Linked DNA regions of Homo sapiens. The protein of the gene in region 3 interacts with the protein of the main gene of each other region in a biochemical or structural test. Each region holds a gene or a part of one and is shown on either strand. Other genes may lie near its edges.

Region 1 (7,825 bases), on a different chromosome or scaffold from region 3:
TCTCACCCAATTAGAAATGCCTGACACATCATACAATAAAGTAGCACATTCCAACATAAAAAGCCAGTAACACACAGAAAGCACCAGGGCCGAGATCCTTCCAGGGGCTCCTTTGCCCTTACCATTGCAAAATGGCTAAAATTCTCAAAATAGACTATTTTCACTTTTGCTCCTGGATCCACCTTTAAAAGGAAAAGAGGAAAACCAAAACCCAAAACTAAGAGATTCTCTCCACAACCGGCCTAGGTATGCACTCTGCATAGAAGGCATGGGCCCTTCAATCTAACTTTCAAAGCTCTTTTCCTCTCGAAGCAGGGTCCAGAACGGGGAAAAGAAATAACTTTTGAAAAATCCACGCCTCACTATGACTGCTCACGAGGTGGCCTCTGGAGAACTCATACCTAGAAGCTGACCGCGGTCGCGCGGCGAGTTCCGGCAGCCGGTCGGCGACCGCACCTCCGGGCGCGAGTGCCTGGGTCCCGCGTTCCTGCCCGGCAGCCCCGCAGCCCCGCAGCCCCGCAGCCCCGCAGCCCCGCAGGCCTGGCGCCCGAGGTCCCGCTCCACTGCCCGCGCCCCCCGCGCAGCCTTATATCTAACGGTCAATTCGTGCAATCTGTCGCTTCTCCCTCCCCCACGCCTTGTTTTTTTTTTCTTCCAAGAAGCCCATCTACCAGTTGCTGTGTCCTCGCTCAACAATAATTACCTCGTCCGAGAATTAATTATAATAAATGTTTTCTTGATAAACTAACGAGATAATCCGAGGGGCACACGTCCCTTAATTACAGGCCGCCATGCTCCTCTCTGCTTCTCGTCCGGGCTGATTAATTTTCTGCATGATGGAAAGGAAACAAAACTACGCGGACTGGCGACTGGCCTGCGGCTGGGAAGACGACGAAGAGGAGGAAAGAAAGAAAAAGGAGACGTGTGGGCACCGCGGAAAACGGCCGGCGCTGGCCTCTCTCCGGCGAACTCGAGTGAAAGTTTCTGGCCTCGGGGAATCAAATAACTCTGCCACCCGCGAGGGAGGGAGGAAGAAACGTGCCAAAAGGGTTGGCCTTGACTATTAATTATCGTTGGGAGAAAGCCCCGGTGTTAGCGCTGAGGTCTGGGTGTCTACCTTACTCTGGGGGGAGGAGTTCCCTCTCCTACTCCCCTCTGTTGCTAATAACTTTTGGTGCCTGTAAAAAGTCCCGAGCTGAGCAGGAGAAATCCTGACCCCGAAGCTCTAGGATGGAGGGGAGAATTTCTAGGAGCGACTTCCCCGTCCCCTCCCCAAGCAATCCACCACCGCAGGGTCGGCGCCGCTCGGCCTTCGCTCCCCGCGCACCAGTTCTATCTGTGAAGGAAGCAAAAGCCAACTCGGTGGAATCCTGACAGGGGACTTGGGTTTCCAAAAATATGTCCCGAAATCGGGCATCGATTTCAAGAGTCACTTGAACGCAACAACGCGAAGACTTCTTGGGAGTTTGCAGAGCGACCCGTCGCCCGCGCCCGGCGCTGGCAGGGACCTTCGGATGGTTCTTACTGGGCCGATCCATGGCACAGGCTGGGCCTCGGCGAACCCCTCGGCCCCCGCCCGGCCCCGAGCCACGACACCTCATTGTCCTGGAGCCTGGGAAGGGGGTGCGCGAGCGCGCGGGCGAGCCCTGCCTCTCCCCGCCAGAGAACAGCTGAGGGGCCGCGGTCCCAGCGGGAGGATTCCGGTCCCTGGCCCGGCCGCGGCCTTGGGCGGAGCAGGGGCCACTAGCTGCCACTTCTGCCCGCCCCAGGTGCGCGCGGAGGGCTACGTGGGGCGGGCCGCGACCCGGCAAAGTCATGTTGAAAAAACACTCTTCACGTTCGCTCGGCCTGGTGACCAGGGTCGGGGACCACGACAACCGGGGGTTGGGAGGCTGCGTAATTACAACCCAGGGTGGTTTGGATTTTGGGGGGTGGTGGATATTTAAAAACAAAAAGGAGATCTGGAAGCTTTTGGGAGAAACAGACAACCGAGCTGTGCTAGGCTGAGGGAGAGGAGGCCAAAGAGAGCGAGCAGTGAGCGCCGGGGCGGACGAGAAGCCAGCGCTCCCAGCCTCCTCGGTTATCCGCTCCGGTTTCCGCTCACGTTCAACAGGGGCCGACAGGGGCTCGAGCGGCGGCCCCCGGCCCAGGCCGACCCGCAAGCGAACCGAGCTTCCGGCGCGCGGGCCCAAGGAGGCGCCTGGCTTTTTATTATTGTTGTTTCAATCCATCCATCTAGTTACATCTGCATCTTTTTGTCTCGGACTCTAAAAAGGTCCCTGGGATCCATCCAAACGACCCCAACCAAATCTGGGGGCCAAAACGCAAAGATCGCGGGAGAAGCCCAGAACGGCGTTGACATAAAAACAAAACCACAAACAAAACCTTCCAAAACACCCCAGATTACATTCGCAGCGTTTCGACGACGTTTTGCAGAAGCGACGACCCCCAGGAGCACGCTCTCTGCCTCTCTCCCACTACCGCTCTCATCTCTAGATCACATTTTTCTTTTTGCAACGATCGTTATTACACCTCAAAATTTGTAAGAGAAAAAATACATCCGCCTACAGAACTCCACGTTCGCAGAGGGGCATCGGTCGGTCTATTGGAGGTACTGGGGTGATGGCCGACAGACACGGGGACACGTAGATATGGATATAGACAAGACAGACGGACACTTACCTTACAGCCTCATGGGAGGTTAGAAAAAGTCAAATATCCTTTAAATTCCAAATAGCCAGCTATCCTAAAAGAAATCAAGAGTATTGAGTTAGAAACCTTGCAGTCTTCACCCTTCCATGAAAAGTCAAACACAACCAAAAAAAATTTTTTTTAAAGAACGAAAATGAGGAAGGCGGCTAGAGTTCTAAACACGCGTGGGCCCCTCTGCAATACATACAAAGTAGATGTGGCGAGTGAGGGCTGCTCTAGCAATTTTTATTTTTAATCACAGTGGAGGCTGTGTTGGAGCTGAGGCCGGTCCCGCTCTCAGGGAGATTTGCTGAGAAAGCGCCTCTCTGGCAACTTTTTGACGCAAACTCTCCAACCAATGGCAGGGAGAGAATGATTGACACATCTAAGCCAGAGGGAAAATAATAAAAACACACAACAGGGGGAGGAAAACAGGCCGCTGCTGCACGGGGGGACGAGCAGGCAACAAATCCAGGCCTCCGACATTACCAGAATGTTCTTTAAAGACACTGGGCTTTGCTTAAAATATACATTATGGGCCGGAGCATGTGAACTAATTGTATAATTAAAATGATGGACAGGGAGTTCTTCTCTTACCCTCTTTTCCCCTGCTTCCTTTACTCCGAAATTTCCTTTCCTCTCTTTTTTTTTTTTTTTTTTTTGTTGTTGTTGTTTTTAGGGAAGGGAAGAAAGGAAACCCATGCAATGTAAGATGGAAGATAAAAATATTTAAGTAAATGCTGGAGAATGGCGGGTTAGGGAGTGACTGGGTTATCACATTCAACCCCAGCAATAAGTGTGTGGATGACAGGCAGAAAGCAAGTCAGACTGAAACTCAAAAACACCACTATGCCGTCTCAGACAGGGCCAGAGCACGCTGACGGCCAGAAAGGGTAAAGGAGGGAGGCCTGGGAGTGCGATGTGGGCATGTAGGGAAAACAGAGAGAGAAAGATACACAAGTCCAAGAACAAACTATTTTCTAAAACTCAGTGTCTTCTCTATTCCCTACGCCCTTATAAATATCCTTACACATATAAATAAATGATCCCCGAGTGAGAGACCCCGGCTTCTGGTAGGTTCCTGGGGTTTTTTGGAATTGAGAAGCCCACGACAGACTGCAGGGAACACGAACCCCGGAATCTAATCTCAGGGCCCATTTAGGAGAAGTAGCTGGGACCACATCGGGCCTCGAGGATGCGAGTGTGAGGTCGACAAGATATCGTGGAAGAGAGCGAACGAGGGAGGCCCCCGTTGGAAACAGTTTCTGTGTTAGAACAAACGCCACCAAACGACCGACACTGCGAGGCCTGGAGCTACCTGGGCTGGCGCCGCCCGAGCCCCGGGCTGCGAGCCCAGAGGCTGGGAAGTGATGGGACCTGGGGGCCCGAGCCGGAGAGTGCGACCCCCAGCCCAACTTTTTTGCCTGGCATAGAAAGCAGGGACCGGACAGGTTTCAAACGGATCCGAGTCCCTAGAAAAGCAAAAACAGACTGGGCGGAGTGTGGGGTGGGGGGTGGCTAGTGGAACTGGTGAGTGTGTGTGAATAAGCTGGGTGGGGGTGGGAGCAGAAGACAGCTCTTGCTTCACAACACCCAGTGCAGGAAAAGAAAAATAAAATCTCTTCCTAAATACCCCACCCCCCGCCACCCACCCACCACCAACTACCATCACCACCACGGCCAGTGGGCCCAAAGAAACAGCTCGCTGCCTTTAATTTGGGGACCTATGTTAATGAAGTTGGTAATTAATTCGTCGCTTTGTTGTCGGTTCTTATACTGTATGTGTACTCAAATGTGGCCGTCCTTGGGATTTACAGCAATTAACGAATTACGGGAGTGCGCACGAGGCAGCAAGCTCTCGGCAGCCGGGCTCCGGCTCGGGCTCGGCCTGGGGCTGGGGACTCCGCGGCAGCGGCCCCTGTCACAGGTGTCCCTAGAGCTTTGGGCCCTGGCGGCCCCTCGAGCCCCCGAGGGGCCCGGAGCCCGCCCAGCTCCTTCCCGGCCCTCTGCAGCAGCTCCAGTCCGGAGACCCGCTGGCTGTCGCGTTCCCAGGAGTCAAGAGTTTCTAGGGGCCCGGGCGGGGGGGAGGGTGAGTACCGACCTTTTTTCTCACCCCACCCCCACTGTACTGAAACACCTGGCGGCCGCCCCCGAAGCCTTTAATGGGGATGGTGGTGAGGAGGGGGTAACAAATGCCCCGGGCGTTATGACCCTCGTGGCGCTGGCTGTCGGAGGCACTGGTTGGGTGCGCTTGGTCAGAGTCATGATGCTTTCGATGAAGGAAAGGCAAATCCACCTCGATCACCTGAAGCAGAGTCTCCTTCCTACCCCTAGAAAAGACAACGTTTCCCCCAGTTTGATCACAATGATGTTTAAAGCATAAAAGAGCCGAAAAAGAAAAATGGACGTTGTGAATCTGGCAGAGGGGAAGGCCGGAGGAAGGCCTTGGGGACAGTGGGCATGGGGTGGGATGGAGAATGATCAGAACATGCGCTTGTGAGCTAAACCAAGTAAACCATTTTGGACTGGGAGATCCATCTGCCGTAGGGTCCAGTGTCCAGGGTAACCTTTCAAGCCCGATGTAGAGGTTTGCGATGTCCTCCCAGATGGCGGGGGCAGCTGAATCTCCCTAAAAATCCCCCTGTTCTATTCGACAGGGGCAGATTTATGCATGGTGGGGCGTGAGAGGGTTTTGCCCTTCCAGCGGCCGGCAGCAGACAGCTCCCGCTTCTCCTTTGCCCTCTAGTCTAATAACTTCGCAGAAATACAGGGCCAATAAACTACGAGTTGGAAATGGACAGTGTTAAATAAACAAGGGTCTCTTTAAAATTCTCATCCACTTCAGATGTCTAAAGTAAGATTGTGATGATTTTGTCACGGTTTGGTAAATTTACCCCTTTAAGAGGCTTTCATAAATCCCAGAACACACCTTCAGCCAGATTTGAATATAGATTTAGGTTTTAAAACCCAGAAGCTGGAAACACCGCTTTATCAAAGAGAATTTCCCTTTAGCTTAGCAATGTGCTGAAGCTCTTAAAAGATTGGATCTGAGAGAGAGAGACAGAGAGGAGAAAGAGAACTAGAGACAGAGAGAGGCAGACAAGGAAGGGGGGGGGGGGTGAAAGACTTTCTTTTTCTTTCTAGAGGAATTCTGCCCAGACTCTGCAGCAGTTGGTAGCAGGCAAGCTTTCTCCTGGGTGTCGCCTTGAAAAGTTGCAAAATTGCTCTTCACCTGTAAGAACATGCTCTTTATCTTCCAGTCTCTTCTTGTCAATTTGGAAATTGCAGACTGCCCGGCTCAGGTACAGTCCCCACAAACCCTATTCTAGGTCAGGACAAAAGCCACTGGCTTTGGGGGAAGGGGGCTGGGCTCTTTTACTGAAAACCTTAGATGCTTGGTGGGAGAAAAAGACTCTTTGGATGAAAAGTCTAACTCTTGATTTTCAGTAAGTTCTTGAACTTCCAATTTACCTAGTATCTGTTCATTGTATTTCTGTGTTTAACTTTTTTTCTGTGTCCTGTGTCGTTAACATTTTTTTTCTATGAATCTGACTTATGGTAGCATGCTTTGTGTTTTTAAATAATTTTCATTAAAAAGTGGATGGTTTTTAATTGCCACTTGTACAATTATTTTGCTACGCATATGAGATATAAGCATTCAGAAGCTAAATTAAGAAAGCCAATACGAAGGGAATCAAATTATTTGTCAGAGCTTGTGTGCAGTTTCTAGAATATGTCTAATATGCATATTTTGAAATCAAGATTCATGTGTGGCACTAACTAGGCTCAATTTCTCCACCGCACAAGCCAGGCCAGTTTAAAATATTCCAAACTTTCCTCCAAGTTTATTAACTTTGGTGGGGGGAGTGGGGGAGGGGGAGGGGAGAGAAGACATCCCGGGATTCTTCCAGGCTAATTAAAAAAGAAGAACAAAACCCATATTCCGTGAGAACATAGCCTTTTGGGGGAAAGGAGCCAGTTAGACTTCCTTAACACTGAATTCAGAAATATGAACATTAATTTCCAATCTTTTCAGCAATTCACTGGACAGTGAGGGACTACATTTTGCCTTAGAAGCACCATAATACCTAGAAAGAAGTCATTTTTTCATTAGGTTTTTAGATATATCTTTATTATAAACTTTGAGGAGATTAACCTTAATTTTTTTAACAAGGATTTAAGACTGGAAATGCAGACAAAATTTAGGGGAAAAAATAAGGCAACAGATCACTTATAAATTAAGCTTGGGTCTCTCACTCCCTGCATTGCGGTTGCCTCAAAAAAGAGGGTAAGGGAGAAAGAAACAACTTCAAAGATAGGATTGGGCTGTCTCGATAAAAGAGTAGGGAGGCAAACTCCAAATGCGAAAAAGAGGAAAAGAGGACCATGTTGTTCCGGAATGAAACGGATTAAGATTGTGTGACAAGTGCGAGATGTGGTGCTGTGAGACATTTATGAGCGGAGTGTGAGCCGGGAGCTGTGCCTCTGTCCCTGAGAGTGTGGGGACCAAGGGTGTGTGCAGAGCAAGGTTAGGGTGAGGGATAGGAAGGGCATGTGTGGATGTGAGACAGAGAGAAGTGTGAGGCAGAGTGTGTGTGTGTGTGTGTGTGTGTGTGTGTGTTAGAAGGGTGTGGACGGGAATGTGGATGGATTGATGAAGGGTGGTAGCTGTCAGTTTACATAATTTTCATCTCCTGGTCCTGAAGTTTCCTTGAAATCAATTCTACTGCAGGCAGCAGCCTTGAGCTTACAGAGCTGATATAAAACAACCATTACAGTCCAATATCTTGCCTGTTTGCAAACTTCATTTAAAACTGGGGAAAAAAAAGACCCAGGAATGGTTTTGTAAGAAAGGAAAAAAGAAGAAAAGAAAACCACAGTGAAGCTTTAAACTAGTTTGGATAAATCTCTAATCTTTTATTTGTAACCTTTTACAAGCTTTATTTCCCGTATATGAAAAGCTTCTTTTATATGGGCACGACAGACTTTTCCTTTGGATTTTTAATTAGAGTCCATCAATTGTAGCCATATTTAAGAATCAATATAAAGTAATCCTTCGAGATGGGATAAGGTTTTAATCGAAAATCTAATTTCCCACTCTTTGCAGATCATTTTAAGAGGCTGGTTGATAAAA
Region 2 (7,022 bases), on a different chromosome or scaffold from region 3:
ATTTACATTCTTCGGCCTGCTACACATATAACAAATATTTTGGGCTTGGTTGACTTGCTATTAATTGTATCATGCTATATAAATTTAGATTTATGCACCTTCTGACACCTAATATACTCAGCGGTTTTTTTTATGGAGCCTAATAGATGCTGTTACACATTAGGAAACACATTTATAACAATCAAATGGTCTTGACTGTAAGTTAGCAATCTAGTATCTAACTTTCTTGTTTGTGCTAACAGCCTCATCAAGGCAGTAGCCATGAGTTAAATGAATCATTACATTAAGAGCTGAAGTGTTAGTACCACAGATTAGTAGAGAGTGTCTTTTTTTTCTTTTTCTGGAATGGTTCTTAGGTGACTCATTAGCAAAAATTACATTTGAGAGACGTCCATATTTGTGATTTAAATATAAATTAAGGTAAAGTACATAAATGAAGTGGATATACTTGAGAATCAGAATAAGATTGTTAGAGTTGAATATTAGACCTTTGTTTTGTTTAATGATGAGATTGCGGAGCTACTTGCTAGAGACTAGGAAGTAGCATTCTCCTATTCCAGGTGGATTTTTTCCTCTCCTGGTTAAAAACAGATACTTTGTTAGCTGAGAAAAATCAGAACTCTTCCTGGTAAACATACAGCTCTATTTTTGATGCTAAATTCTGTGATTTTAGCATGGATAGATTTAAAACACTTTTAACTGGCATCATCCCAGTTTGTTCATATACCAGAGATTATAAACTACCCTTTTTCTCCCCTCCACAGCACAAAATACAGCTTCTAATTTGTTTTTCTGAAATCTGTGTAGGTCTTTTGAAGAAATGCTTCTTTATTAGAAGTGTTGCATGTGTGATTTTTGTTTTGTTTTGTTTTGTTTTTAGCTAACTGTGTGTCAACAGTTGTAGAATTCTTTTATTTTTTCCAGTATGTTATGATCTCTAATTTCTTGTTTTGGCAACTCTTTATTGGCTTATACTGTATGGCTTGAGGGAAAATTTTCTGGTAATATCCCACACTTTCTTGTACTTCCTACTAAAGTATGGAATGATTAACTAGTGGAGGTATTTCTCAGTCTTTTTGTATTAATAGTTATAATTTGCCATGCATTTTTTCGTGTATTTGGTCCAAACTCTGGTTAAGTGCCTTATTCCTAAAACTACCTAGTTCAATCTACCTGCTTCAATATGGTGTGTCTAATAGAACTAGTTTTAGGTTAATATTACCTGGTTTGGGTTTACTCCAGGATTTCTCTCTTATCTTGATTTTTGTTCTGCATTTACTGCCTTCCTGTTCCAGTATTTCAGTTACAATCTAACTGCTAGGAACAGATTGACACTGAAAATAGATACAGAATCCATGGTGATACATAATGTAGTTCAAGTTTTTAACTTTTCAAGCGACATGTAGCTATTTTTCTTTACATTTTTGCTATTTCTTTTTATTATAAATTAGCAAATTATATATTTATGGAGTACAAAGTGATGTTATGATTTGTGAATATAATGCGGAATGATTAAATCAAACTAATATATCCATCACCTTAAATACCCTTTTTAATGGTGGGAACATTTGAAATTTACAATCTTGCCAATTTTGAAATGTACATATACTATTAACTGTATTCACCATGCTGTACAATAGATACCAAAACAAAACAAAACAAAACAAAAACCTAATTCTTCCTGAGACTTTGTACCCTTTTACCAACATTCCCATATTCCCACCACCTCTAGCCTCTGGTAACCACCATTCTATTCTCTACTTCTATGAGTTTGATTGTTTTAGATTCTATGTATAAGTGAGAACAGGCAGTATGTGTCTTTCTGTGCCTGGCTTATTTCACTTATCATAATGTCCAAGTTCATCAGTGTTGTTGGAATTGACAGAATTACCTTTTTAAAAGCTGAATAGTGTTTCATTTTAAAGAATCCACATTTTCTTTATTCATCCGTTGTTGATGGACACTTAGGTTGATTCTGTAACTTGGCTATTGTGAATAATGCTGCGATGAACACAGGGCTGCTGACATCTGTTCTACGTATTGATTTAAAATATTTTAGATATATATCCTGAAGTGGGATGGCTGGATCTGTATTTTTACTGTTTCTACTAGCAGAAATGATCTCATTTGGGCATTTCTAAGCACTTTATAATCAACTCAGTTAATTAAGAGGACTGAATTCTCAATAGGAAGTCATTGTTTAAAACACATGCACTGACCGTACAGTCACTTTTTTTTTAAACAAAGGTAATTTTGAAATCTGCAATTGAATAATATTCTTGTATTAATGAACTTGCATAGCCTAACAGTAGTAATGTTCATCTGGATAACAGGTTTAGGGAACTTGTTTTCAGTGAGGAGGATAAGGACATTCTCAACTTAGCAAACTCTACAGTAAAGATAAGGTTTATTTATTTTATTTTTTATTTTTATTTTTTGACTCTCCTCTTTAGACCAGGGATAAGATTTATTTTTATTAAAATTTTGTGGAAGATTTTTTCCTTTCCAGAGTGTAGTTTTATAGTCTTTGGTTTTTGTCGTGAAGTTTTATATTTTGTCCTTATGTGTTTTGATTCCTTTTAAATAATTAATGGGTTCACAGAGGAGATTTCAAGTGATGAAGAGGAGACAAATGTAACTGCTCAAGCAATGCAGTCAAATAATGGAAGAGGTGAAGATGAGGAGGAGGAAGATGATGACTGGGATGAAGAAGTATTGGAAGAAACCGCGCTTGAGGGGTTCAGTACTCCACTTGACCTTGACAATAGTGTGGATGAATATCAGTTTTTTACACAAGCTCTGATAAGTATGTCTTTACTTCCCCACATCTTCTGATATTTTTTTTTCTAAACTCTTTCTTCATTTCTTCCTGTTTTGATATTTGCCCAAGATTGGTCTAGGTTCTTTTAAAAATTTTTTTGTTTATTCCTTATGATAGAAATCCCCAAACATACATACATGAAATGATAGAAATTAAAATAATGAAACACCTATCACCCAATCCTAGCAGCTTTCATCATTGAGAAGTAGCAGGGTGAGCCTGTATGTTATCCTTGCAAAAGTAATATGTGGAGTATCTGTGTATATTGTTCATCCTTTAGGCATAAATGGGCAAGCATTTTTATAGCAAAGAATGAAGTGTTTCAGGCATACATTGCTTAAAAATTGTGGCTAACAACCTACTAGTTATTCACAATCCCTAGAATGAAATTGCTGCCGTAAGAGGGTGACTTTTTACTTTGTAAGTAATTTGCCAATTTTATACAACAAAGAACAGTATAATTACAGTTACAGGACTCATAAATGATTCGGGGGGAGAAAATATTTGCCACATATGCATAATAGGCATAATGTACACAGTGTACAGAGGCCATCCTCAGATACATAAGACCAGTAACCTAGTAGAAAATGGAAATGGAAAATTTACAGAATAAAAACAAGCCAATGAGGATATTTAGAAAATTATTAATCAAATAAATTATTTTAAATCTCATTAATATAGATTATTTGTTTTATGGTTAGATAGTATTTCCATAGTTACATTGTAATTTAGTTCCACTGTGGGACATTTAAGATTGTTTCCAATGTTTTTACCATTATGAGGGTTATTAAAATGAACATCCTTACATGTAAATGTTTTTACTAATAAGGCAATATTAGCTTAATATATTGGCATTTTTTAGTGTTGCTACAAATAACATTAATGAAGAAAAAACTACCTAGATGTTCTTATTGAAATTCAGAGGAATTGGAGGCAGAGAACACAGGAAACTATATTCCAAAGCATGGGAAACGTAACAGCATAAACGTGGAGATGGAAATATGGAGGATGTGGCCTAGTGTAGTTCCAGACATGGGTGTGTCATAATCACCAAGGAGGCTTTTAGGTCTTGAGTAGGATCTCAGGAGATGTATTTTTAAAGATGCTTCTCAAGTGACAAGCAACTTTAAACCAGCATGTAGGGGCCACTGCTTAAAGACTGTGAAGGAACGCAGTTGGGCTGGGCTATAGTGGCCTTGAATTCTGGACTGAGGTGGTCCATCCCATTGCCCATTGGAATAGCGTTGAAAGTTGTGTTCTGAGGCGGTGACCTTTTAGATGTGGTAATTCACTTCAGGGGAGTTACCCGGTGATGGATGATGTGCAGAAAAAACTGGAAAGGACTAGATGTGGGAGCCAAGTGTTAGAGGTTCACTTTATTAATTTAGATGTATAGAGACCTGGAATGGGGAGGGTGACATTTGATGGAAAGCAGCATACAGATGAAAGACATTAAGAAAGAAGCAGAGCTTTGGGTGTGGAGAGGGCATGCTCAGGGATGTTAAGGATGCACAGTAGTGGACTGGGAGACTAATAGAACTGGTGAGATAAATGGAGAGATAGAAGGTTTGGGAGGAAATTGTTAAATTTGGTTTTAGTTGTGTTGAGTTTGAGATGAGCTATTCAAATGGAACAGTCCAGGAGGCTTAGGGGAAGGTTTTTCCTAGAGGTACAGATTTGAATCCTTGGGGTGGTAGCAATACTAAAGCTGCAGGTAGTATGAAAATTCCAGAGGAAAATGGTAACAAGTGAGTACTGGTGTTCTGGATTTTAGAGAACATCCATAGAAGACAGCAAAGGAGACAGAGAACTAGGCAGACTAGAGATTTGCAATGTCCTAACCTTCCTTTGATTTCCCACATAGCTGGGTACTAAGTGGGTACTCAGAAATAATCCTTTGTTGGCGTAAGTTTCATTACCTTGTGTGTGTTGTAGTACTGTACTCTTTGTCTCTTACTGTCTGGGATAATTTCTTTGTAATTTGATCATGTTACTACTTGTTCTGTAAATTAATAGTCGCTGTACCCTCCTGTCTTTTCCTCCCAAAATGCAACAGCTGTGCAGAGTCGAGATGCAGCCTGGTACCAGCTGCTGATGGCACCACTCAGCGAGGATCAGAGGACAGCACTGCAGGAGGTGTACACACTGGCAGAGCACCGACGGACGGTGGCAGGTCAGCCAGAGTAACCTCCAGAGTGGAGTGCATGTGTCAGAGTGCCAACAGACAGCCTTATTTGATGAGCCAGGTGGCACCTAAACACTGTTTTTGAAATTGTTAGAGACTTACCCTTTAAGATAATAAGGAATTGTCATTATTGTATGATTGTTTTAATCACTCATGATGTCTTAGCTTTGCAAAAACCTGCACATTAATATGTATTTCCTAGTGGTGTTCTCATTCACATTCTTATCCTATGTTGGAGGCAAAGGTACAAAGTAAGGGTTGGGATAAGTCTTGCCGAGGGAGACTTAATCAGTTGGATCACTCCCCTAAACATTTCAACCGTGGGCCAAAGGGACTTGACGAATTCTTGCAAGGAGCTTGTATTCCTGGAAATGGAATGCTCTCTATTTCTCATTGTTGGGCTTTATTTGACATTGTTTCTTGTTGTTGATTTTCAGTTTTTAAGCTGGAGGAATTACTCTGTGTTGATTATTGTAGTTACTTGTAGATTGTCATTGGAAAAGATTTTGTAGTTACAAAAAAATTTTAGTAGGAAACATGGCAAACTAGACATCTAGAGTTTAGAATGCTGGCTCTTCTGCATGGACTTAGATTTTCAGTTCTGTGCAGATTCTCAGTCAGCCTTCCTGATATGAGAAGTCTGGGCCCCCTTTCAGCAGTAGAGACAGTGAAGTAGAATCCACCTCTGAGACGTGTTTTCTTTTCACTCGTTTTTTGCAGATTTTCCGATGGTAGTGAACATACCACCTTATTGACATAGGTCTGTTATTCTTAGTTATTCTTTGGCAGGATAACTAATACTACCAGTCACATTCTTTCACAGTTCTAAGCATATAAAGAATCTGGCTCCTTTGAGTCATCTCCAACTTTGTCACCTTAAGCATTCTTTTTTTTTCTTCTCCCCTTTTCTTTTGAAAAATGCTAGAGGCAAAGAAGAAGATTGAACAACAGGGAGGCTTCACCTTTGAAAACAAAGGAGTCCTCTCCGCATTTAATTTTGGGACTGTGCCCAGCAACAACTGAAGGAAAGAACATCAGCTGACCAAATGTCATCGCTGCATTTTATTTCACAAGAGGAGTGTGAGGGTCAAGGGGATGAAATGAGGGGCTGCTTTTAGGGCCCTCCTGCTGTGCCAGTTACCATCTGGCATTAGGCAGCACTTTTATCTACTCTTTCCCCTTTGACCTTTGTCACCCTGAAATATATATTTTAAACAGCTACTGTAAGTATGAAATGAAAGAAAAACAATCATTGGACGGAAAAGGACAACCCATATGTTCCAAAGGCTGAATGCCCAAGGTTGTTTTAGAGGATTGGATAGACTTGCACGTCTCAGGTTTTTGCCATGCAGAATCAATGGATTTATGCGGATAACAGTGCCTTCTGTTGTACATGAATTATCAGAAAAAAATTTTTGGAGTGCATTGCAATTTTTTTTAAAGCATAAAACATATTTCTAGATACAACATAAACCTTGGTTATATGTCAACTATTCTGCATTTTACTCTGTGAATTTATTGTTAGGCAGTTACTGCAAGTCACTCTGGTTTCAAAATCTTCACGGCTCCCTCTGCTCACCCTGCTGCTGGGGGGCTTTTTTCAGGGGTTGTATTATAAAATATGCACTGGCTGTGGTTTTTCATAAGATGTTTTGTGGCTTTTTAAAGAAGTGTCTTACTCCCTCTTCTCTCATTTTTTTCTGCCTTGAAAAGGGGTGGTATTTCTTTTGGGGTCAACAAATACACATATCAGTTTCACTCCTAACCTTGTAAGTTCAGGACTCATTTTCTTGGCAGCAAGTGGCAGGGGCTCTTTAGTCACTGGAGTTAACAGTAAGTCTGAGTATATTCTGAATAATGTAATTATGCAATTAATTGATAATCATACCTAAAGCACATTGAACTTCTAAGAGACAGGTGCTACGTAAGCACACTGTCTTTCTGGATGGGGACTTGTATTTTAAATAACTTATCATTCCAGCTATGTTGGACTAGGGTCCAAAGCATTTTATAATA
Region 3 (7,022 bases):
GAATATGGTAGGATTTTGCAGTAGAGTTTTGTTTTTAAACTGAATGTAAACTTAAAACTATTTAGTGTCTATAGGAAGCAATCTTAAAAATAAGGTTAGATACCTTAAAATAGAACTTGTTTCTTGAAATATTTTTTAGTTCCCATATAGATCATACGAAAAGATGACTGTCTATGCCCAATAAAAATTTTTATGGTATTTCACATCATTCGTTTTAAAATCTAGTATGTTTAAAAGTGAAGACTAAAGATTTTAAATTAGTATACTTACTGATTCATACATACACACATATTTAAAAATGTGTAGCTCCTTTTTTAAGTTGTTGGAAAAGTACAAAATCATGTGTCCTTTTTTGTTTTGTTTTGAGACTGAGTTTTGCTCTTGTCGCCCAGGCTGGAGAACAGTGGCACGATCTGTGCTCACTGCAATCTCTGCCTCCTGGGTTCAAGCAATTCTCTTGCCTTAGCCTCCCCAGTAGCTGGGATTACAGGCGCGTGCTACCACGCCCAGCTAATTTTTGCATTTTTAGTAGAGATGGGGTTTCACCATGTCGGCCAGGCTGGTCTTGAACTCCTGAGCTCAGGTGGTGCACTTGCCTTGACCTCCCAAAGTGCTGGGATTACAGGCGTGAGCCACCATGCCCGGCCGATTATGTGTTCTTGATATGAAGACTATAGTAATCAGTTACTTACAGTGGGACTTTTATTTTAATTCAAAATAACACTTTAAAATTCTAGGAACTGAATATGTTTTTCCTGAGTGATAACTTGCTTTTAATTCCTGTATGTCCAAAGACTTGAGAGAGAGAGAGAAAGAGGATTGTTTCTTTTTCTTTCTTCCCCTTTCTTCACTGGGTCTCACTTGCTGAGGCTGTTTTCGAACTCCTGGACTCAAGCAGTCCTCTCGCCTTGGCCTCTCAAAGTGCTGCAATTACAGACATAAGTCCCTGCACCCGTTCTGCTTACGTTTCACAAATACTGGGCAGTTGCAAGTTTTGGCTTAGCTGTTCTTCTCTGTTAGGCCAACCAGAGTTACGCTCTGAAAGTGCCAGTTTAGGAGTTAGCCAAAAACCTGTGAGGGATTTTTACATATATTGAGGAGCCCACTTCTCATCTACAGCAGTTTTTCTCTGGTACCCTGTCCCCCAAAGCCTACCTGCCTGCCAGTCTCTCATTGTTTTCATCGAGACTCCCACTGTCTGCCTGGAAACCCATCATTAATTTTAAGCTAGTGGGATAGGAAATGTCATTCAGTAATTATCTGTTTGAACACTTAAATTTACTGGTAAGTAAATGTTGATAAAAATGTTTGGTTTTAAGGCATTACTTACTGTATGTCAATTTTCAGGCCTTAATCATTCTGTGTAAACATTTAAATTTATTCAGTTAAGTAATCAAGTTAATAAGTTCCTGTTGGGTTAAGTACTGTGATTATTGAGTAAAATCAAGACATGGTCTCCGTTCTGGGTGACTTTATAGGCTAATAGAAATTCTTGTACATGTCATATGTTGATAAGAAAAAACATATCCCTTGGGAGGCCAAGGTGGGAGGATTGCTTGAGCTCAGGAGTTTGAGACCAGCCTGGCCAACATGGTGAGACCTTGTCTCTACTAAAAATAAAAAAGAATTAGCCAGGTATCATGGTGCCTATCTGTAGTCCCAGTTACCGTGGAAGCTGAGGCAAGAAGATTGCTTGAGCCAGGGAGATTGAGGCTGCAGTGAGCTATGAGTGAGACCCCATCTCTAAGAAAAATAAAATACAAAAAAAAAAAAAACCCATATTCTTTCAAATAAATATTTACCACCTTTCTGCTCTGCATTCTTTTAGACAATAAATATTTGACTTACATATCTTGTTATGTTAACATAGATCTCTGTTGTTTGCTGCTTCAGTCTGATATCCAAACACTTGTTGCATTGCCCTTTTTTTGGTATCAGTCTTTGTCCTAGTGCCTTTCTTTGGCTCTCTTCTTTTGTTGACAACAATTTATGATAGTATGAAGAGCTACATGGAAGAATGTGGTGAACACCTATTTTAAATTACTGCCCCCAGACTACTTTTCTTTCTGATATTTTTAGATGACAGTGTTAATTTTGTCTAGCCTAAAAGAAGATTTAAGTTCAAGCCAATGTCCATCTTGTTAGGTTCCATTGAAAATATTAAGTTGCCGAACTTTTAGGTTACGATAGGGTAAACAGTATGCCATGAAGGTAAGACCTGCGCATCATTGGCTTGATCACTTTACAAAGCTTTTTTGTCATCATAATGTTGTTTTGTTTTGTTTTGTTTGTTTTTGAGACAGGGTCTTGCCGTGTTGCCCAGGCTGGTCTCAAACTCCTGGGCTCAAGCAATCCTCCTATTAATCCTCCTATTAATCTCCCGAGTAGCTGGGATTGTAGAGACGCACCACAGTGCCCAGTGATACAGTTGTTATACTCTTGAAACTTTAGTTTCCATCCTGTATCCTTCCTGATACCCCCTTCAGTACCATATGCAGTATCTTAATATGATGGTATGTTAAGAAAGATAGAAGATTTTCCCAACTTTGTTGCATAGTCTGTGACAGTCTTCCTGCTATTTAAAAAAAAAAGTGCAAGTGGAAGGATAACTATAAATACTGTTATATTTTCAAATTTGAGAAACCGTTTGCTCTTTGCTCTTAATGAAGAGATATGAGAATAGAGAATGGTTCTTTAGAGTTTGGTCTGTGGTCTGTTTTATGAAGCAATCTGCTTTAATTCCTTCTTCTTAAAAAATACTACTAGTGCCGGGTGTGGTGGCTCACGCCTGTAATCCCAGCACTTTGGGAGGCCAAGGCAGGTGAATCACAAGGTCAGGAGTTCAAGACCAGCCTGACCAACGGGGTGAAACCCCGTCTCTACTAAAAATACAAAAATTAGCCAGGCATGGTGGCACACATCTGTAATCCCAGCTACTTAGGAGGCTGAGGCAGGAGAACTGCTTGAACCTGGGAGGAGGAGGAGGTTGCAGTGAGCCAAGATCGCACGACTGCACTCCAGCCTGGGCAACAGAGAGAGACTCTGTCTCAAAAAAAAAAAATTATCAGCATATCAGTTCAGGTTTAGTTAGAATATTGCTGTCATAGATGTGTTAAGACATTTAAAATAATGTTTTATATTATTTTCCACTAGGAAACCACCCCTACTCCTAATCCCCCGACTACAGAAGAGGAGAAAACGGAATCTAATCAGGAGGTTGCTAACCCAGAACACTATATTAAACATCCCCTACAGAACAGGTAAGCTTTCTAACACCTAGGTTTTCTGAGTTAGGCCACAAGGTAAATTGTGAATGGGGCAAGTTTGAAGGGAAAGTTAGATTATGAGACTAGTTTTAGATATGCTAAGGTTGAGGGTTCTATTTTCACTTGGATGACCCATGACCAGCAGACAGTTTTATGTGTGAGTCTTGAGTTCAAAAGGAGCTATGTGAGAGATTAGTTTGAAAAGTATTGGTCATAATGGAAGCCACATTAGTAAATAAGTTCCCTTAAGGAGAAGTGAACTTGACTCAGGACAAAGACCGGGGATACTAGCATCATATAGGAGGCTTTTGTTGAAGAAGAATGCCTATGAAGGATGGACATACAAAGACAGTGGTGGTCGCCCAACGCGGTGGCTCACGCCTGTAAACCCAGCACTTCAGGAGGCGGAGGCGGAGGCGGAGGCGGGCGGATCACCTGAGGTCAGGAGTTTGAGACCAACCTGGCCAACATGGTGAAACCCCGTCTCTACTAAAAAATACAAAAATTAGCTGGGTATGGTGGCAGACGCCTGTAATCCCAGCTGCTCGGGAGGCTGAGGTGAGATAATTGCTTGAACCCAGGAGGTGCAGGTTGCAGTGAACTGAGATCGCGCCATTGCCTGCCAGCCTGGGCAACAAGAGCGAAACTCCATCTCAAAAAAAAAAAAAAGAGACAGTGGTGGTCATGGAAACCAAGAAGGTGGTTTATTCTAAGATAGGGTGGTTTACAGCACATGTGCTAAAAAGGTCAAATGAAGCAAGATGTCAAAATATCCATTGGATTGAACACTTTTAAAAAAGTCCGTGCTGACTTGGGAAAAAGTTTTTTAGTAAGGTTCCATAGAGTAGTTCCATAAAACATGGAAAAAGAGATTAGGGCAGTTTGAAGAGTGAATAGGAGATATACAGATGTATAGAGTAAGAACAGGTGACTTGAAGTTGGACTGAGAATGAGAAACGAGAGCCAGGGAATGTGGAGTTTGAAGGTTGGTTGGTTTGTAAGTGAGAGACTAGAAAAGGGGACAGATTAAAATTAGTTAAGTTTTCATAGTTAATAGTGTAACAGGAAATTGAGTATTAGTTCATTATATGGCTTTTCCCAACTCTTCCCACTCCTTTCCAGTAGGTTTGTTTTTATTTATTTTCTGGGGTATATGAGAATTAACTTGAGTTCACTGAATGCTGATGGTGGGAAGAAAATGGCAGTTCAGAAACATTGTAACAATCTAGAGGAAAGTAAATTGGAATTAACTTCTGAGGTTCTTGAAGTATTTCAGTTCATTTCTTGTCTTTTTTTGTTTTTATTTACTTTTTTTAGGGCAGACCATTCACTCTCTACTTAAAAGAGTCCACAAGTCTATTTATAATTGTTTCATTTATTAAAATTTTTTTATGATCTCAATTTTTTTAAATGTTTCCTTTATTCATCATGGAAGACCTACTGAAATAAATAGTTCAAATATGCTGTATGCAGTTTTCTCATAGGAGACCCTTTGGTTCAGTATATCCTCCAGTGAGGAACAAATCAGTTTTTTAGACAATGGAGATTCTCAGCTAGTGGGACATCAGAGGTCAAACAGTCTATAAAGGATAAAATCCTTCCTCAGGGAAGCAATGTACCACATGTATTAGGTTGAACAATTCGTTAGAGGCAGTCTTATATAGTTTAACCTAATAGTAGCACCAAAACCCACATTTTTTTTTCATTTTTTTCAGTGATATGAAACAAACTGTATATCTTCTAGCTGTCTGTGAACCTAGTTCTTGGTGTCACTTTTATTGTGGGGAGAAGTAAACAAGGCATATATCCCTCACAGCTTGAATGGAGTCTAAGAAGGGATTCTTAAGTGTCCTCATCAGTTTAAAAAAAAAAAAAAAGTTTAAATCTTAAAATGAAGTCTCTGGGGACTTCAGTTTCTCTATAAATTCTACTTTTTGTGTAAAATAGCAAGTATCATTTGGAAAAATACTATGTTTTATGGCTCCAATTTTGGCAGTTTTCTCATTATTTACTTCTTGCATTTTACTTTCTTCACTCCCCAGAGTAGTCAATGTTAAATTTGGTTTGTATTCCAGAAGTATTAAATGCACATATGTATACTTTTTAATACATACGTCTATACAGTTGACTTTTCTGTTTGTATGTGCATATTTTACCTCATTGTTTTAAACCACCGTCTTGCATTATATTGATATACCACCATATATTTTATTAGGTTTACATTAATGGCTGTATAGATTTTTCTTTTTACACACAGTGCTGTAATTTACATCCTTACATAATTGTGCACTTGTGTGAATATATAGGGTAAAATTTCAGATCTCCTAGAACAAAGATTACCCTTTAACAACCTTTGCGCAGATACTGCCACATTATTCTGTTTTATTGGCTTAGACTTAACAGTTTGAGAGTTCCTGGTTTCTATATCCTTGCTAACTCATGTGATTAGTCTTTTAAGTTGTTGCCAATCAGATTGGTCCCAGTCTGATTTGGGAAAACAATTTCAGTATTTTCAATTTGCATTTTAAAATTGAAGTTTCAAAATATTTTCATATTGATGATTTGTGGTTTTTATCTGAGGACAGATTATTCAGTTCTTCTATTTTTTTTCTTTTGGATTATCTTTTTTTTCCCCTACTTTCAAGCTAACAAGTTATGGAATATCTTTTCAAGTTTATTTCCAAGCATTTTATATTAGAGTGCTAACTCACCCAAGGCAGGGAAGTTGGAGGAGTATTAAGTCAGAAAGAAACAGGTTATCCATATCATTTGTCTTCTAACATTGTCTGTGGAATTGTATGGTTTTTTTTTTTTTAGAGGTCTTTAATTTTCATGTAGGCAAATACTGCTTTTCCTCAGTGGTTTCTGGGTTTCATATCAATTTTAGGAAAACTTTACCACACAGTTAAGCTTTTTTTTTTAAACTTTTTAATAGTTGCATAGTAGTCACTTGCGTGGATGTATGATATTTTATTTAAATCAGCAGTACTCAAGTATTTGGTCTCACAATTCCTTTACACTCTTAAAAATTATTGGTGACTCTACAGAGCTTTATGTGGATTTTTATCTATTGTTATTTACTATATTTTTACAGTAAATAATGCTAAGATGTTATTTTATTTTTCACATTTAAAAATGTATAATTTCACCTGAAAAACTTGAGAAATGTAAAATTATTCGTTTAGAAAATCTATCACATGTTAACCTAAGTGACATTTTGTAATGAAAATAATTATTTGAAATAAAAAATATATAATGGGAAGAACAGCATTTTTGCCATCTGTTTTTTTTTTTTTCGGAGTCTCGCCCTGTCGCCCAGGCTGGACCTCCACCTCCCGGGTTCAAGCGATTCTTCTGCCTCAGCCTCCCTAGTAGCCGGAACCACAGGTGTGTGCCACCATGCCCGGCTAATTTTTGTAGTTTCTAATAGAGACGGGGTTTCACCATGTTGGCCAGGCTGATCTTGAACTCCTGACCTCATGATCCACCCACCTCGGCCTCGCAAAGTGCTGGGATTACAGGCATGAGCCACCGCACCTGGCCGCATTTTTGCCGTCTTAGAAGTCAACTGGATTTTCATAGCTGTTTCTGCCTTCAGTCTATGGAGTTAAGATGTTTCATTGGAAGTATAAGAAGACAATACAGCCTCACACAGGTATTTGGTTGGAAAAGGGAGAATAGTTTTTAAAAGCCTTTAAAAATAATTGTTGATATGCTCCTTTGATACACTACTAGGTTTCTTTTTTCCCCCCCCTT

What was found. Proteins that work in one complex are often made in the same cells at the same time.
Region 1: the proteins of EIF4E (region 3) and OTX2 form a complex in vitro, tested with the Homo sapiens proteins (one study listed by BioGRID).
Region 2: the proteins of EIF4E (region 3) and IPO8 form a complex in vitro, tested with the Homo sapiens proteins (2 studies listed by BioGRID and IntAct, with this or other methods).

Annotation. Positions count from the first base shown.
Region 1 is NC_000014.9:56,807,477-56,815,301, forward strand, and holds the start of OTX2 (homeobox protein OTX2), read right to left. Parts: upstream 3,004-7,825; 5' UTR 2,900-3,003; exon of another isoform or gene 2,747-2,899; 5' UTR 2,683-2,746; intron 1-2,682. UniProt on the Homo sapiens protein: Transcription factor probably involved in the development of the brain and the sense organs. Can bind to the bicoid/BCD target sequence (BTS): 5'-TCTAATCCC-3'.
Region 2 is NC_000012.12:30,629,867-30,636,888, reverse strand, and holds part of IPO8 (importin-8), read left to right. Parts: intron 1-2,602; coding exon 2,603-2,806; intron 2,807-4,877; coding exon 4,878-4,994; intron 4,995-5,931; coding exon 5,932-6,029; 3' UTR 6,030-7,022. UniProt on the Homo sapiens protein: Involved in nuclear protein import, either by acting as autonomous nuclear transport receptor or as an adapter-like protein in association with the importin-beta subunit KPNB1.
Region 3 is NC_000004.12:98,898,114-98,905,135, reverse strand, and holds part of EIF4E (eukaryotic translation initiation factor 4E), read left to right. Parts: intron 1-3,153; coding exon 3,154-3,260; intron 3,261-7,022. UniProt on the Homo sapiens protein: Acts in the cytoplasm to initiate and regulate protein synthesis and is required in the nucleus for export of a subset of mRNAs from the nucleus to the cytoplasm which promotes processes such as RNA capping, processing and splicing.